Linked DNA regions of Homo sapiens. The protein of the gene in region 1 purifies or fractionates together with the protein of each later gene. This does not show direct contact. Each region holds a gene or a part of one and is shown on either strand. Other genes may lie near its edges.

Region 1 (7,022 bases):
TCAGTGGAGAAATCTGGAAGATCCTACCTTAATCAAGTGAACAAAGTTAAAATCATTAGTAATAAAATATATTGGCATCTGTAACCCCAATACGAATCAGTGAGAACAGCATAAAACATTGCTTCTGTGGTATTCTTGCCAAAAATGTATAACCCAATCAGACGTCATACAAACTCAAATTAAAGGAACTTCTACAAATACTGACTAGATTGTTCAAAAGTGTCAATGTCATGAAAGACCAAGAAAGATTGAGGAGACTAAGGATACAAGACAACTAAACATAACACGGAGCTCTGGATTGATTCCTACACCAGAAAAAGGACATTTGTGAGAAAACATCAAATAAGGTCTACAGATTAGTAGACAACATCGTATCTGTGCTAACTTCCTGGTTTTGATCATTGTGCTATGGTTATGTAAGATGTTAATATCAGTGAAGGCTTGGTGAAAAATATTGAAGAATTCTTTGTACTACTTTTGCAATTTTTCTTTTAAGCTTAACATTATTTCAAAATAAAAATTTAAATATTTAAAACCTAATAGTTTCAAAATTTTCCCAACCATAGCTCATTATAATTTGCCAGTTAAAAATTTAATTTGAGCACTTTATAGTTAATAAAAGACAATGATTTATTTTTTCATTTTTTATTTTTTTGAGTCAGAGTCTCACTCTGCTGTAAAAGATAGAGTGCAGTGGCACAATCTCAGCTCACTGAAATCTCCCCGTCCCAGATTCAAGCGATTCTCCTGCCTCAGCCTCCTGAGTATCTGGAATTACAGATGTGCACCACCACGCCTGGCTAATTTTGTATTTTTAGTAGAGACAGGGTTTCACCATGTTGGCCAGGCTGGTCTCGAACTCTTGACCCCAGGTGATTTGCCCACCTCGGCCTCCCAAAGTGCTTGGTATTACAGGCATAAGCCACCGAGCCTGGCCAAGACAATGATTTTAAAAGAGTTTTGATAGCAACTTCACTCACTTTAAAAAATGTTAGATGTAACCCACATAGCAAATTAAGAATGTTGGTTCCTTACTTTAAGTACCACATAGGGTCAGCGTCACTTGTAACCTTTTCATTGGCTTTCATTATCTTCTTTATCTGCAGTGGAAAATGCAACATTAGCAAAGACTCTGGCTTCCAATTAATCCTTAGTTTATGTCTATTTCTAACATCTGATGCTTACCTCTACATTAATGAAATAGTTAAATGAATCTATATGCTGTTTCACAAGGCCTTTCACCTAAACAGATAGAAAGAGAAAGTAAACAGGTTAGCAAAAGTGCAAAGAGTACTGATGATATGCTCAAATAATAGATCATATAATGGAATCTAATAATAGGTGAACATCAAATTTTTATCAAAATCAAAATGAGAAAAATAATCCATGAATTTTATTTAATAAATCTTTTCATTAATGCATTCTCATTCCATTTCTGCATCGTCTTACTAGCATATCCTCGAGAGTTTTCCTCCTTGAGAAGCAATCTGACTCTCGGAAATCAAAATATGAGTACATGAATATATGGTCATGTGCCACATAACAACATTTCATTCAACTACAGACCACATATCTGACAGCAGTCCCATAAGATTATAATGGAGCTGAAAAATTCCTATCGCCTAATGACTTACAACTTGATTTGATTTCATAGAGTGTATTTCTGAAAAGAATGACCCCTCCTCAAGAAGAGCCTCCGGCAGGTCCTTCAGCAAGTATTCTAGAAGAAGGTATTGTTATCATAGAAGATGACAGCTCCATGTGTGTTACTGTCCATGAAGACCCTCCAGTGGGACAAGGCATGGAGATGGAAGACAGTGATATTGATGATTCTGGCCCGGGCTAATGTGTGTATTTGTATCTTAGTTTTTAACAAAAAAAAAATTTTTTTTTTTTTTTGAGACAGAGTCTCGCTCTATTGCCCAGGCTGGAGTACAGTGGTGCGATCTCGGCTCACTGCAACGTCCGCCTCCCTGCATCAAGCAGTTCAGGTGCCTCAGCCTTCTGAGTAGCTGGGATTACAGGTGCCCGCCACCATGCCCAGCTAATTTTTGTATTTTTAGTAGAAACGGGGTTACACCATGTTGGCCAGGCTAGTCGGTCTCAAACTCCCAACCTCAAATGATCCGCCTGTCTTGGCCTCCCAAAGTGCTGGGATTACAAGCGTGAGCCACTGTGCCCAGCACCCAGCACCTTCTTCTCCATTTATGTGCAGCTCCTTTTAAAAAATAACAAAAAGGCCAGGCAAGGTGTCACATTCCTACAGTCACAGCTACTCGGGAGGCAGAGGCAGGAGAATCACTCAAACTCAGGAGTTCAAATCCAGCCTGGGCAATGTAGCAAGACCTGGTCTCTTAGGGGGAAAAAGAAACTTCTTGACCTTACGACCATTTTATTTGATTCTTGGTCACTCCCCAACTTAGAAACTCCTCAATAGCTTCCTACGGCTTTTAGAAGAAAAGCCAAATCCTTAACACGGCTTTCAAATCTGATCAGGAAACTGGCCCTGACAACTCCCAGCCTCGTTTCCCAGCACTCTCCCCTCTGCCCATAACACGCAACTGAACTCTAGAGTAGAGTCCAAAATGAGTAGAGACAAAACTCTACTCATTTTTCTTTTTTTGAGACGGAATCTCACACTGTCGACCAGGCTGCAGTGCAGTGGCGCGATCTCGGCTCACTGCAACCTCTGCCTCCCAGGTTCAAGCTATTCTCCTGCCTTATCCTCCCAAGTAGCTGGGATTACAGGGGCCCGCCACCACACCCAGCTAATTTTTTGTATCTTTAGTAGAGACGAGGTTTCACTATGTTGGCCAGGGTGGTCTCAAACTCCTGACCTCGTGATCCGCCCACCTCAGCCTCCCCAGGTGCTGGGATTACAGGCGTGAGCCACCGCGCCCGGCCTCATTTTTCAAGTCTCCATTCTTTCACTTAGCACAATGCTTTCAAGATTCGTCCATGTTGCAGCGGGTACCTGCTTTCTTTTTATTGCCAAATAATACTCTGTTGCACAGATACATCCCATTTTGTGTATCCATCCAGCAGCTGATGGCCATTTGGGTTGTTTCCACTCTTGGCTATTATGAATAATACTGCTATGAGCATTTGTGTACAGGTTTCTGCATGGACACATGTTTTCATGTCTCTTGGACAGATATCTAGGAGTGGAATTGCTGGAGGATGTGGTAACTTTTTGTTTAACCATTTGAGAAACTGACAGCCTGTTTTCCAAAGTGGCTATAACACTTTACGTTCCCACCAGTGGAGCATGATAGTTCCCATTCCTCCACACCCTTATTAACATTTGATTTTGATTATAGCTATCCTAGCGGGTGCCAAGTGGTCTCTCACTGTGGTACTCATTACTTCTTAGCATAAGCTCTTGGAAATTGAATTGAAGCCCGACACCACATCATATCATATTCAGCAGCTCCTCTTGACTGGTCGCTATTTCCTGCAGACTCTGTGGAGGCTCCTCTTGAACACCTTGATTGAGCCACGCTCTCTGCACCCAGCTTTCAGGCTTAAACCTTCTTCTCTTAAGATGTGGTTTATGTCTCACTTCATTTGGGTGGCCCTCTCTGACCATTGCTCTTTTGCTGATAGCACTTTGGTTTTTAATCATGTGCCATGCTACTGTGCATGTACTACTACTTCTCTCTAAAATTAGACTACCACTCTCCAAACCAGCACCTTTCAGGCAGGGATTTTACCTTATAATTCCTTGTATTTCCAAACACAGCTATACAAAATCAAAAAATGTTGATGACAAAAATTTAATCTTTAAAAAATGGCTTATTTCTTGACTTTTTCATCTGAAAAATAACCAATTATTATTAAATGTGAAACAATTACCTTTAAAAATGCTGGAAGCAGCCTCCATTTTTCCTGTGAGCCAAAACAAGAAGAATATCAGAACTCTGTACCAGCAACAGTACTTTCATAAGTTATTTTAATGTTCCAAAATAAGCAAAGGAAAGTAAATCAAAACAAAAAGAATAATTTTTAAACATTTTTATGGAAATCACATGTGTGCATATGCATATAAATATGTATACACATACATACATACACTACAGGTTTCCTAAACAGAATATAACTTAATCTCTTCCTGATGACTCAAGATTTTAAGCACTTTTCAATCCTTTATTTTATTCTCATGACACTTCCTAAGTGAAGTTTGCCAGTTTGAGAAAAGGAAAATAAGGCTCAGAGAGTCTGGTGGGAGAGCTGGGTCTCAAGACCCAAAGGGAGTTCTTTCTCCCTCCCATTCTCTCTCAACTACTGTCTGGTCAGAGCTCATCTCAGGGCTACAGAAGGATGACACATATGGTGATTGCTTCCTACATTGCCTGAGCAACTAGAGGGATAGAGTTAAAATTGATGGAGGCGAGGAACATTGTAGGAATAGCAGGTTTAGGTGTGGAGGGGCTACTAGAAATTTGGTTTGGGTGTGTTAAGCTTGAGATCTCCATTAGACATTCAGGTGGAAATGTCAAGGAGGCAACAAATGAGTCTTGAATTCGGGAATGGAGTGGCCTGGAGATATAAACTAGGAAGAGATTAACAAGTGGATGGCAATTAAAGGCACGTGATGGATGAGATCACCTATGGAATGTAGATGGAGAAGAGTTCCACAAAGTGAGACCAACCAAGAATAATCCAACAATCAGAGAGGAGGAGCAGGAGGCAGCTCCAGCAAAGGAGACCGAGGAGTGGCCAGGGAAGGTGGCAGACCCCTGGGTATAGTCAAAAACAAGAGAGGCAGGCAAAGCTAATCTATGATGACGGAAATCAAAAGGTGCTTGGGGGGATAGACTGAAAAGGGTCATAAGGGAACTTTCTGGGGTGATGCAATGTCCACATAGAGCACATAACTATAAAACCAATGTAACTGAATATCTAGTATCCATACATTTTATTATATAAATTACACCTAAATTTAAAAATAGAAGAATGACAATGATATAGGTTGAATTGTGTCCCTCTCAAAATTCATATGCTAAAGTCCTAATCCCCAGTATCTCAGAATGTGACTGTTTTTGAAGATGGGGTCTTGACAAAGGTGATTAAGTAAAATGAGTCATTAAGGTGAGCCCTAATCCAATACAACTGGTGTCCTTATAAAAAAGGAGAAATTGGACATAGAGATGCACACAGGGACAATGCCATGTGAAGATGAAGGTAGAGGTCTCAGTGAAGCTTCTGCAAGCCAAGGGATGCCAAAGATTGCCAGCAAACACCTGTAGTAGGGGACGGCCCAGAGCAGATCCTCTCTCATAGCCCTCAGAAGGAGCCAGCTCTGTTGTCACCCTGATCTCAGACTTCTAACTTCCAGAACTATGAGAAAACAAATTTCTGTTGTTTAAGCCACCTAGTTTGTGGTTACTTTGTTACGGCAGCCCTATGAGCTAATACTCCCACATCTTCAAATTCCTCTCTCTACACCCCTTCTTATACTCGTTTCCTCCCACTTCAAAGGAAGGACCATCCATTCCTTGGTCTAAGGCTAACCCTTCCGCCACAGACACAATCCTGCCAACCTTCTCCTGAAGACTGGAAACCTTGCCCCAGTTCAGTCCTTGATATTCAACCTGTTCTATTTAAAACGAGTATTCAAATCCTCCCATTAAAAAAAAAATTTAAAACTTTCTTGACTCAGCAGCTCCTCTGACTACTTTCTTCCCTGCCCTTCAGCTTACGATCTCTCCCAAATTACTCCATATTTAGCTTCTCTGTTCCTCACTTCCCACTCCTTCATTCCGTTATAGTCAGGACTCTGACCTACCTGCCAGTGAAAGAGCTCGACAGAGGTCACCAAGGCTGCTACTTCAAAAGACCTCCCTTGATGCCCCCTCACATTCCCTTTCCACAGTATTTGGCCATGCCGATCACTGTCTTATAACACTCTGTGGTATCATTCTCTTATGTCTTTCCTTCCTCCGGCCGGGCCTTGTCACACCTCTTTTTCTCTGCCACCCTGCAAATTTTGGTGTTCTTCAAAGTTCTATCCCTGGCGATGTCTTTTCTCAAGTAGGGCTGGGAATGGAGGATTTCAAACAACACTGTTTGAAAGTGTTGTTTAGCTTCCCCCATCTCATCCCACAGCCCCCCAGTTCCAAATGTGGGCTCTTTCAAGGGCAGTGACCCTGTCTATCCTGTTACCACAGTGCCTGGCACATAAAAGACTCCAATAAATACTGAATAAATAAATGAGTGAGTGAATATCACTGTTGCAGTAAGCTACTGGGTATGGGCCTGTCCCCTCCAACTATTGACTGGGCAGTGATACCTTACAGCCTCAGAGGCTACTTAAGATCAGTATGTCCAAAATTAAATCTTCCCCCAGCTCCATTCTCAATCTCAATGAATATCACCATTTATCCCAGTCAATCCCAAATTAGATACCCGGGAGTCCTAACTTTCTGACTCTTCTTAATCAACAGGAAAACAAAAATTCTACTGAGTCGACCTCCTTTTAACCTTCCTCGCATTTATCCTCTGCTCCTGTGCCAGTTGAGGCCCTCATAATCTTTCAGCTGGTCTGCGGCAATACTTCCTTACTACTCTTCCTGCTCGTCCCTTTCAATGCTCAGCACTAAAGCCAGTGTACATGTCCTCATGTGCACAGCTGAGCACCTCATTCTCTACAACTCTTCAGTGCCTCCCCACCCTCTTCACCATGTCTTAACTCCACAGCGAGGCATACATCATATGCTGTGCTTGCAGCTGTACTTGTGCCTACGCCTCCTCCTTCTATCTGGAATGCTTCCGCACCACCACACTTCATCCACATCTGGCAAACTCAGTTCAGGCATCACATCCTAGCTACCATTTGTAATACCAAAATACCCCTCGCCTACTTGTATCACAGTACCTATTGCATGTTATTCCACTTGCTTACACGTCTCTCTCTATAAGCCTATAACACACTGGGAGGCAGAAAACACATTTTTTGAACTTGTATAAACCCTGTGAATAATACACCACCAGGTAAGTACTCAGTAACACTGACAAATATT
Region 2 (7,901 bases), 4.1 Mb from region 1:
GTTAAAGCAACAGGTAGTGTAGTGCTACCTTCCATACTCTGGAATACTATCCACTAAGGTCAAAACTATGCCTTCATCAACCAAGAGGCTGACTGACAACAAGGGAAAAAGATACCTGACTGGGCTGCAGATTCAAACCTGACTTAGACTCATGGGTACCTCTGGGGAATTTACTTCTCCACTCTGCCCTTCAATTTTCGTGTCTCTAACTGGGATGTCCTCCATAATCACTAAGGCTCCTTACTGTTCTAAATGTGACAAGCGGTATTTAAAGGGAAGAGTTCTGGTTACATAGTGTAACACCTAACACAGTGTCTCTACCAGGACTTGTACAGTGCAAACAAAGCTTTAGGTAGGATGGTCAGGGATGATGTCTCTGAGTAGGGGAGATATGAGTATATGAGAAGGAGTTTGCCAACCTAAGGGGAAGAGCATTCCAAGATGAAAGAACGCCAAGATCAATAAATAGTCTGGAGGTGGCTATCAGTTTGTAACTTTTGGTTTAGATAATTCTTTATCCATTATGTAGTTGTTACCGTACTATGTTAACATCTCGGGCTGGGTGCAGTGGCTCACACCTGTAATCCCAGTACTTTGGGAGGCTGAGGTCGACGGATCACCTGAGGTCAGGAGTTGGAGACCAGCCTGGCCGACATGGTGAAACCTCGTCTCTACTAAAAATACAAAAATTAGCTGGGCGTGGTGGCGTATGCCTGTAATCTCAGATACTCAGGAGGCTGAGGCAGGAGAATCGCTTGAACCCGGGAGGCAGAGGTCGCAGTGAGCTGAGATCACACCACTGCACTCTAGCCTGGATGACAGAACAAGACTCCTGGCTCAAAAAAAAAAAAAAGTCTCTAGGCTACTTGTCTGTGTCATACTCTGTTTAAAGGCAGAGATGTGTCTTATTCAGTTTCCCAAGCACAGGGACTAGCGCAATACCTAGTACATAATAAATACTTGATAATTGTTTCTAATTGACTTATTATGTTTAAAGATAAGCTCCACAAGGGCACGGATTTTGTGTGTGCATGTTTTTTTCCCCATACAACCCCCAGGGCCCAAAACAGTGCCTGGGATAAAGAACGTACTCAAGGAATGTTTCTGATAGTAAGCATCAAAAGCTTATAAAGATACTTGTTTAATACAATCAGCCCAAAAATTAAAATAGACTATAGAAAAAACATCCATCATGCTGTCCTCTCAGTGCCTTTACACATACTGTTGTCTCTGTCTGGAATGCCCTCTCCATACATCACACACTGTATCTTTTTTTTTTTTGCAAAGGGTCTCACTGTCACCCAGGCTGGAGTGCAGTGGCACCATCATAGCTCACTGCAGCTTTGACCCAGGCTCAAGCGATTCTCCAGCCTTAGCCCCCCGAGTAGGTGGGACTATAGGCTCTCGCCACCATGCCCAGCTAATTTTTGTATTTTTGGTAGAGACAGGGCTTCACCATGGTGCCCAGGCTGACCCTGAACTCCTGGGCTCAAGTGATCTGCTGGCCTCAGCCTCCCAAAGTGCGAGGATTACAGGCTTAAGCCACCACACCTGGCCACATCACACTGTATCTTAATTGACAGGTCATCTATTTGTCTTCCCCAAAAGACTACAGACTCTGGGTAAGTTAAAGGCCATAGGTATCTTAGTTACATGTACATGTTTTTACCCAGAATAAGTCAACAGCTTAGAACAATGTGTTTGTTAAAGACTGAGGCCACACAACACCTCCACAGACTCTAGTGTTTCCACACTTCTTCTTTTTTTTTTTTGCGACAGTACCTCTGTCACCCAGGCTGGAGTGCAGTGGCACGATCACCACTCACCACAGCCTCAACCTCCTGGGTTCAGGTAATCCTCCCACTTCAGCTTCCCGAGAAGCTGGGACTAGAGGTACCTGCCACCAGGCCTGGCTAATTTTTGCATTTTTTTGTAGAGACAGAGTTTCGCCGTGTTGCCAAGGCTGGTCCCAAACTCCTGGGCTCAGGCGATCCGTCCACCTCCATCTCCCAAAGTGATAGGATTACAGACGTGAGCCACCACGCCTGGCTATGTTTCCCACACATATGTTATTTGATCCATATCTTCACCATTCTCACTGTATTTGAATGTTCCTAACATTCCCTTAATATTTGTTTACAAGAAAAAATTTTATCCCTACTGTAAACTGAAAACCACTTATATTTGACATAACGTGAAATTAGACATAAAATTATATAAAATCTTTAAATGTTCTATTTTTAGCTAAATACAGGTGCCTATTAAAAGCTCTGAGACTAAGAACTGCTCTCTGAAAAGACCTGGGGATTAAAGAAGTGCTGAAGATACACACTAGCACCGAGCACAACTTCTCCTAAATGCGAAGTTGAGAACTGAAAGAGAAATGAAAAGGGAACAATTTCCCTAACACATTATCTGATGCTCCTTAATGTGGGGTCCATGTACCACCTACCACCTAAAAGCACCTTAAATACCAAAAGTCCATGTCCCAAGTTCTGAGAAACAGTAATTAATGAGACCCCACTTTACCCTCCTGGGAGCGAGACAGGGCCGGATTCTGGAGTTGAGACAAAACTGGATTTATATTTTTTTGCGGGGCAAAGAACTTAATTAACCTTTCTGTATCTCGTTTTCTGTAAAATGAGAAAAATGAGATCTCTCTCACAGGGTTGTTGTAGAAATAAGCGAGGCGTTTCATCTGCTGCCTGGGGCTTAAGTATACAATAAATATTAACAACTACCATTATTTCCCTTTCAAAACAACAACAAAAAAGAACGTGAAGCCAGACAGCAGAAATGAGTTGCGTGGGGTCTCAGGGTTCCCAGTACACACACCCGCCGGCTCACTCCCTCAGGACCCAATCTCCCGCCTTCCACGAACTCCTACTTTTCTCTCCTTGTCCCCGCAGATCCTCACCTTCCCGCTGCCCGCGGGGCCCATGACCAGCTGCGCATACCGAGGCATGTTGGCTCCCGGAGCCGCCCGCCACACTCCCTTAGCCTTCGCGCGACGCCCACTGAGCTCCGGGAAAGTGAAGTGCGAACCAATCGCAATCCACATTCTTTCTACGCCTCCAGTTCTACCACACCTCCTACTACGGGGCAGCCCGCGGGCCAAATCCCGTGAGAAACGCGTCCTGAGAAAAAAGGGGAGGGGCGAGGGAGAGGATTTGCGCGTGCGCAAAAGTAGTTGATGGAAATCGGCCGTTGGGATGCTGTCTAAGCTTGGATACCTGAGTAATAACGGACAACAGATAAAGCTCCGCATCCTTGCGCCACGTGCTTCGGTCCGTGGTTTGCGTGCAGACGTTTGACCTGTATGGTGACCCTCGCGATTTGCAAATGTGCTGAGGATCTGGAATACTGAAGTGGAAGGCACCTCTTGTTTTGGGGAGCATGTATATTTCCCTCCTGTGACGCACTGCTTCCACAGAGAGGTGCAAACGTGCAAACGCTCAGCGACCGCAGCGCTCCTGCCCCTCCCCCACCGTAACTCCGGGGTCGCGGATCTGCCCGCCCCGCTCTCCCGAAGCTGTTCGGGCAGTGTCCGAACGGCTTCGGAGGGGCGAGAAGCCAGCATCCGAGCCGCCTCTCCGGAATACCAGCAGCCTGACGCACGCGTGCTGTCGGGGGAGGGATGCTGGGACAGCTGCTCCCGCACACGGCTCGCGGTCTCGGCGCCGCGGAGATGCCCGGCCAGGGTCCGGGGTCCGACTGGACGGAGCGTAGCTCTTCTGCAGAGCCGCCCGCTGTGGCCGGGACCGAGGGTGGCGGCGGCGGGTGAGGTTGGGGGCCCCGGGGTAAGGGTGGCAGCATGGGGCCCCCGGGTCGTGAGGCCCCCGGGTCGTGAGCCCCGTGGAGGAGGGCTGCGGCCGACCTCTCGTCTCGGGGGCTGGCCCCGGTGCCCTCAAGTGAGAGGCGGGGAGCAGTTTTGTTGTGGACAGAGGGCAGAGGGGAGGACTGCCTCGCGGTTGAGGGAGGGTCTCTGAGGGAAGCTTCGGAGGAGCGTTTGGTGCAGTGGCCACGAGGTGACTGCGACAGTCGCCCGCGTGCATCTCTCTGCCCCGAGGGGGCGCTGCGAGCCCTGCTGGGACGTTTGCTGTCTGGCACAGGACTGTGTGTCCACCGAAAGGCGAGGCGGGAGGGACAGAGGAGGAAGATGTCCCCCGGTTCAACTGGGGGCATCCAGGCCCATAAACCAGTTCCTTCCCTCTAGTGACATGAGCCACCTTCCTGTCAAACGGGGATTTCTTTTTCTTTTTTTTTCTTTTCTTTCTTGTTTTTTGAGAGCGAGACAGTCTCGCTCTGTTGCCTAGGCTGGAATGCGGTGGTGCGATCTCAGCTCACTGCAACCTCAGCCTCCCAGGTTCAAGTGATTCTCCTGCCTCAGCCTCCCGAGTAGCTGGGATTACAGGCGCCTGCCACCACGCCCGGCTAATTTTTGTATTTTTAGTAGAGAGGTGGTTTCACCATGTTGGCTAGGCTTGTGTCGAACCCCTGACCTCAAGTGAGCCGCCCGCCTCGGCCTCCCAAATTGCTGGGATTACGGGGTGAACCATTGCGCCCGACCTCAAACGAGGATTTCTAATCGCCAATGAGACCAATGACTGAATATCCGAGGTGCCTTGATCTTGACATTTTCTTCACACTGAAGTTCCTTTTTTCACAAATCTATTTCGTTTTGAGCAGGTTTTTACACCTATTTCCTAGATAGTGAAGACAGCGAGCTGTTGAAGTCACTGCTGGAGACTCTACCTCCTCTTCCTCTCCCTACTTTATTCCCTAAAAGCAAGAACTGCGATATGTTTGCCGTTCAGTACAACCCGCAGTCAGGGCCCCTGTTGCACCCATGGCCATCCTTTTTGTTTTTTTTTTTTTGAGACAGAGTCTCGTTCTGTTGCCCAGGCTGGAGTGCAGTGGTGCCATCTCAGCTCACTGCAAGCTCCGCCTCCCGGGTTCACGCCATTCTCCTCCCTCAGCCTCTGGAGTAGCTGGGATTACAAGCGCCTGCCACCACGCCCGGCTACTTTTTTGTATTTTTAGTAGAGACGGGGCTTCACCGTGTTAGCCAGGATGGTCTCGATCTCCTGACCTCGTGATCCGCCCGCATGGCCGTCCTTTTTGTCTCTGGTGCTACTGAAGACTTCTTAAAGATGGGATGGAGTCTTGGGTTTCTTTTCTGTTCTTCACAGTCCTTGGCCGACTGCAGGATCCTGGTGTATCAGGAGATACGTGAATTTTTTTTTTTTTTTTTATTGAGACAGAGTCTCCCTCTGTCACCCAGGCTGGAGTGCAGTGTCACGATCTCAGCTAACTGCAACCTCCGCCTCCTGTGTTCAAGCAATTCTCCTGCCTCAGCCTCCCAAGTAGCTGGGACTACAGGTGTGCGCCACCACGTACCTGGCTAATTTTTGTATTTTTAGTAGAGATGGGCATGAGCCTGTAATCCTGGAAGGTTCTATTATGATCCCCACTTTATGGATGACAAAACAGGCACAAAGAGGTTGTTTGTCCTTTCCTTTTATCTCCGCCTGTCGTTCATCTCCATGCTTCCTTTAGTTTATCCAAACTCTTAAAACTACAATTAAAAAAAAAGACAGTATGCCCTTCAGTTTGGTTTAAGGAACCCCATTAAAAAACACAAACCAAGACTAATTTATGAAAAGCTTATATTCCCAGAAATACAAAATAAAATTTTCAAACTAGAATCAGGTTTATTATGCTACATGATACAATGTTGGCACTGGCAGGGGTCTTAAAAATCATCAATTCCGGTCATATTTACTAATCTGAAAGGGGAAGTGATCTGCCAAAAATCCCATTATTAACTAATGGGAACTCCGGAACTCCTTACTTTTTTTCTTCTTTTTTTTTGAGATGGAGTCTCGCTCTGTCACCCAGGCTGGAGTGCAGTGGTGTGATCTTGGCTCACTGCAACCTCCGCCTCCCAGGTTCAAGCGATTCTCCTGCCTCCTGAGTAGCTGGGACTACAGGCACGTGCCACTACGCCTGGCTAAGTTTTTGCATTTTTAGTAGAGAACGGGGTTTCACCATGTTAGCCAGGATGGTCTCGATTTCCTGACCTCGTGATCCACCCGCCTCGGCCTCCCAGAGTGCTGGATTACAGGCGGGAGCTACCGTGCCCAGCACTTTTTTTCTTTAAAGTCAGGTTTATTGAGGCATAATTTACACAAATTAAAGTCTTACTTTTTCATGTATAATATGATGGGTTTTGACAAATGCACATGGCTATGTAAGCACTGCCACACTAAAGATACAGAGCAGCTCTATCACTCCTTCAAAACTCCCTCATACCTTATAAAGTCAACCTTTGAGAAAGGAAGACACAGGAGGGTTGCCAGCAGAGAAGTGATGTGATCTTACTTTACTTAAAAAGGATCACGCTGGTTGCTAGTTGGAGAATAAACTAGAAGGAGCAAGCGTAGAATTAAGAAGTTGGAATACAAGAAAACGATATGGTGGCTTGGAATAAAATAGCAAAGGAAGCGGCGGTGAAAAGTTCATAACAAAAACTTTATAAACTTGGCGCCTGGCCCATGAACTCTTGGTCATTGAATAAATTGCAGGATGAGGATCAGTTGTTTTGTCTTAAGTTTAGAAAAGAAAAAGAATTTGTACGAAATTAGAAACATTACAGACCAACTTATTAGTTCTAGCACACCTTAATTACTATTCAAAGAACAGTCTTTCGGCATGGCGTGGTGGCTCACACCTGTAATCCCAGCACTTTGGGAGGCTGAGGCGGGCGAATCAGTTGAGGTCAGGAGTTTGAGACCGGCCTGGCCAACATGGCGAAACCTTGTCTGTACTAAAGATGGAAAAATTAGCCGGGCGTGGTGGCGGGCACCTGTAATCCCAGCTACCGGGAGGCTGAAGTGGGAGAATTGCTTGGACCTGGAAGGCGGAGGTTGCAGTGAACGGAGATCACGCCATTGCACTCCAGCCTGGGCAACAGAGCAAGACTCTACCTCAAAAAAGAAAAAAGAAAAAAAAAAAAGAACAGTCTTTTCAATACCCAAATCACTTCATTAAAAATAAAGACAGCAAGATAATCACATGGATAGCCCAGGAGCCCCAACTACTTTATTGAGCTCACTGTAGGAATGAGATTAGGAAGCTATAAAATTAAGACCCAGGATAGGCATGGTGGCTCACATCTGTACAAAAATTAGCCAGGCGTTTTGGTGGTCCTGGCTACTTGGTGGCTGAGGATCGTTTGAGCCCAGGATTTTGAGGCTGCGGTGGGCTATGATCACGACACTGCACTCTAGCCTGGGTGAAGGAGGGAGACCCCATCTCTAAAAAAGGAAAGAAAAAAATCTTGGAGCCATTAGGATTTAACCAGAATTATAGGAAAAAATTTGTAAGACATTATTTCTGATGGAAACATGAAAAGTAAAAATAATATGCAACACTATCCTTTTTTAAAATTTGAAATATGTTGGTTGGGTGCAGTGGCTCACACCTTTAATCCCATCACTTTGGGAGGCTGAGGCAGGCAGATCATCTGAGGTCAGGAGTTTGAGACCAGCCTGGCCAATATGGTGAAACCGTCTGTACTAAAAATACAAAAATTAGCTGGGTGTAGCAGCGCTAGTCCCAGCTACCTGGGAGGCTGAGGTGGGAGAATCACTTGAAACTGGGAGGCAGAGGTTCCAATGACCTGAGATCATGCCACTGCACTCCAGCCTGGGTGACAAAGTGAGACCCTGTCTCAAAAAAAAAAAAAAAAAAAAAAAAAAAAATTGAAATATGTTGTTCAGTGCTTGTAACATTGTAATTATTACATATTATTTATATGCTTTATTTTTTCAACAGATCAGCTGGATACTCTTGTTACCAGAATTCCAAAGGTTCTGGTGAGTAGTGCATATAAAGCA

The links.
Region 2: the proteins of POLR3B (region 1) and GPN3 purify together in Homo sapiens (affinity purification with mass spectrometry; 5 studies listed by BioGRID and IntAct, with this or other methods). This does not show direct contact.

What each region holds. Positions count from the first base shown.
Region 1 is NC_000012.12:106,360,736-106,367,757, reverse strand, and holds part of POLR3B (DNA-directed RNA polymerase III subunit RPC2), read right to left. Parts: intron 3,889-7,022; coding exon 3,856-3,888; intron 1,243-3,855; coding exon 1,186-1,242; intron 1,101-1,185; coding exon 1,036-1,100; intron 1-1,035. UniProt on the Homo sapiens protein: Catalytic core component of RNA polymerase III (Pol III), a DNA-dependent RNA polymerase which synthesizes small non-coding RNAs using the four ribonucleoside triphosphates as substrates.
Region 2 is NC_000012.12:110,465,239-110,473,139, forward strand, and holds the start of GPN3 (GPN-loop GTPase 3), read right to left. Parts: upstream 2,966-7,901; coding exon 2,918-2,965; coding exon of another isoform or gene 2,888-2,917; intron 1-2,887. Other genes in the region: protein FAM216A, read left to right, coding at 3,638-3,780, 7,840-7,880. UniProt on the Homo sapiens protein: Small GTPase required for proper localization of RNA polymerase II (RNAPII). May act at an RNAP assembly step prior to nuclear import.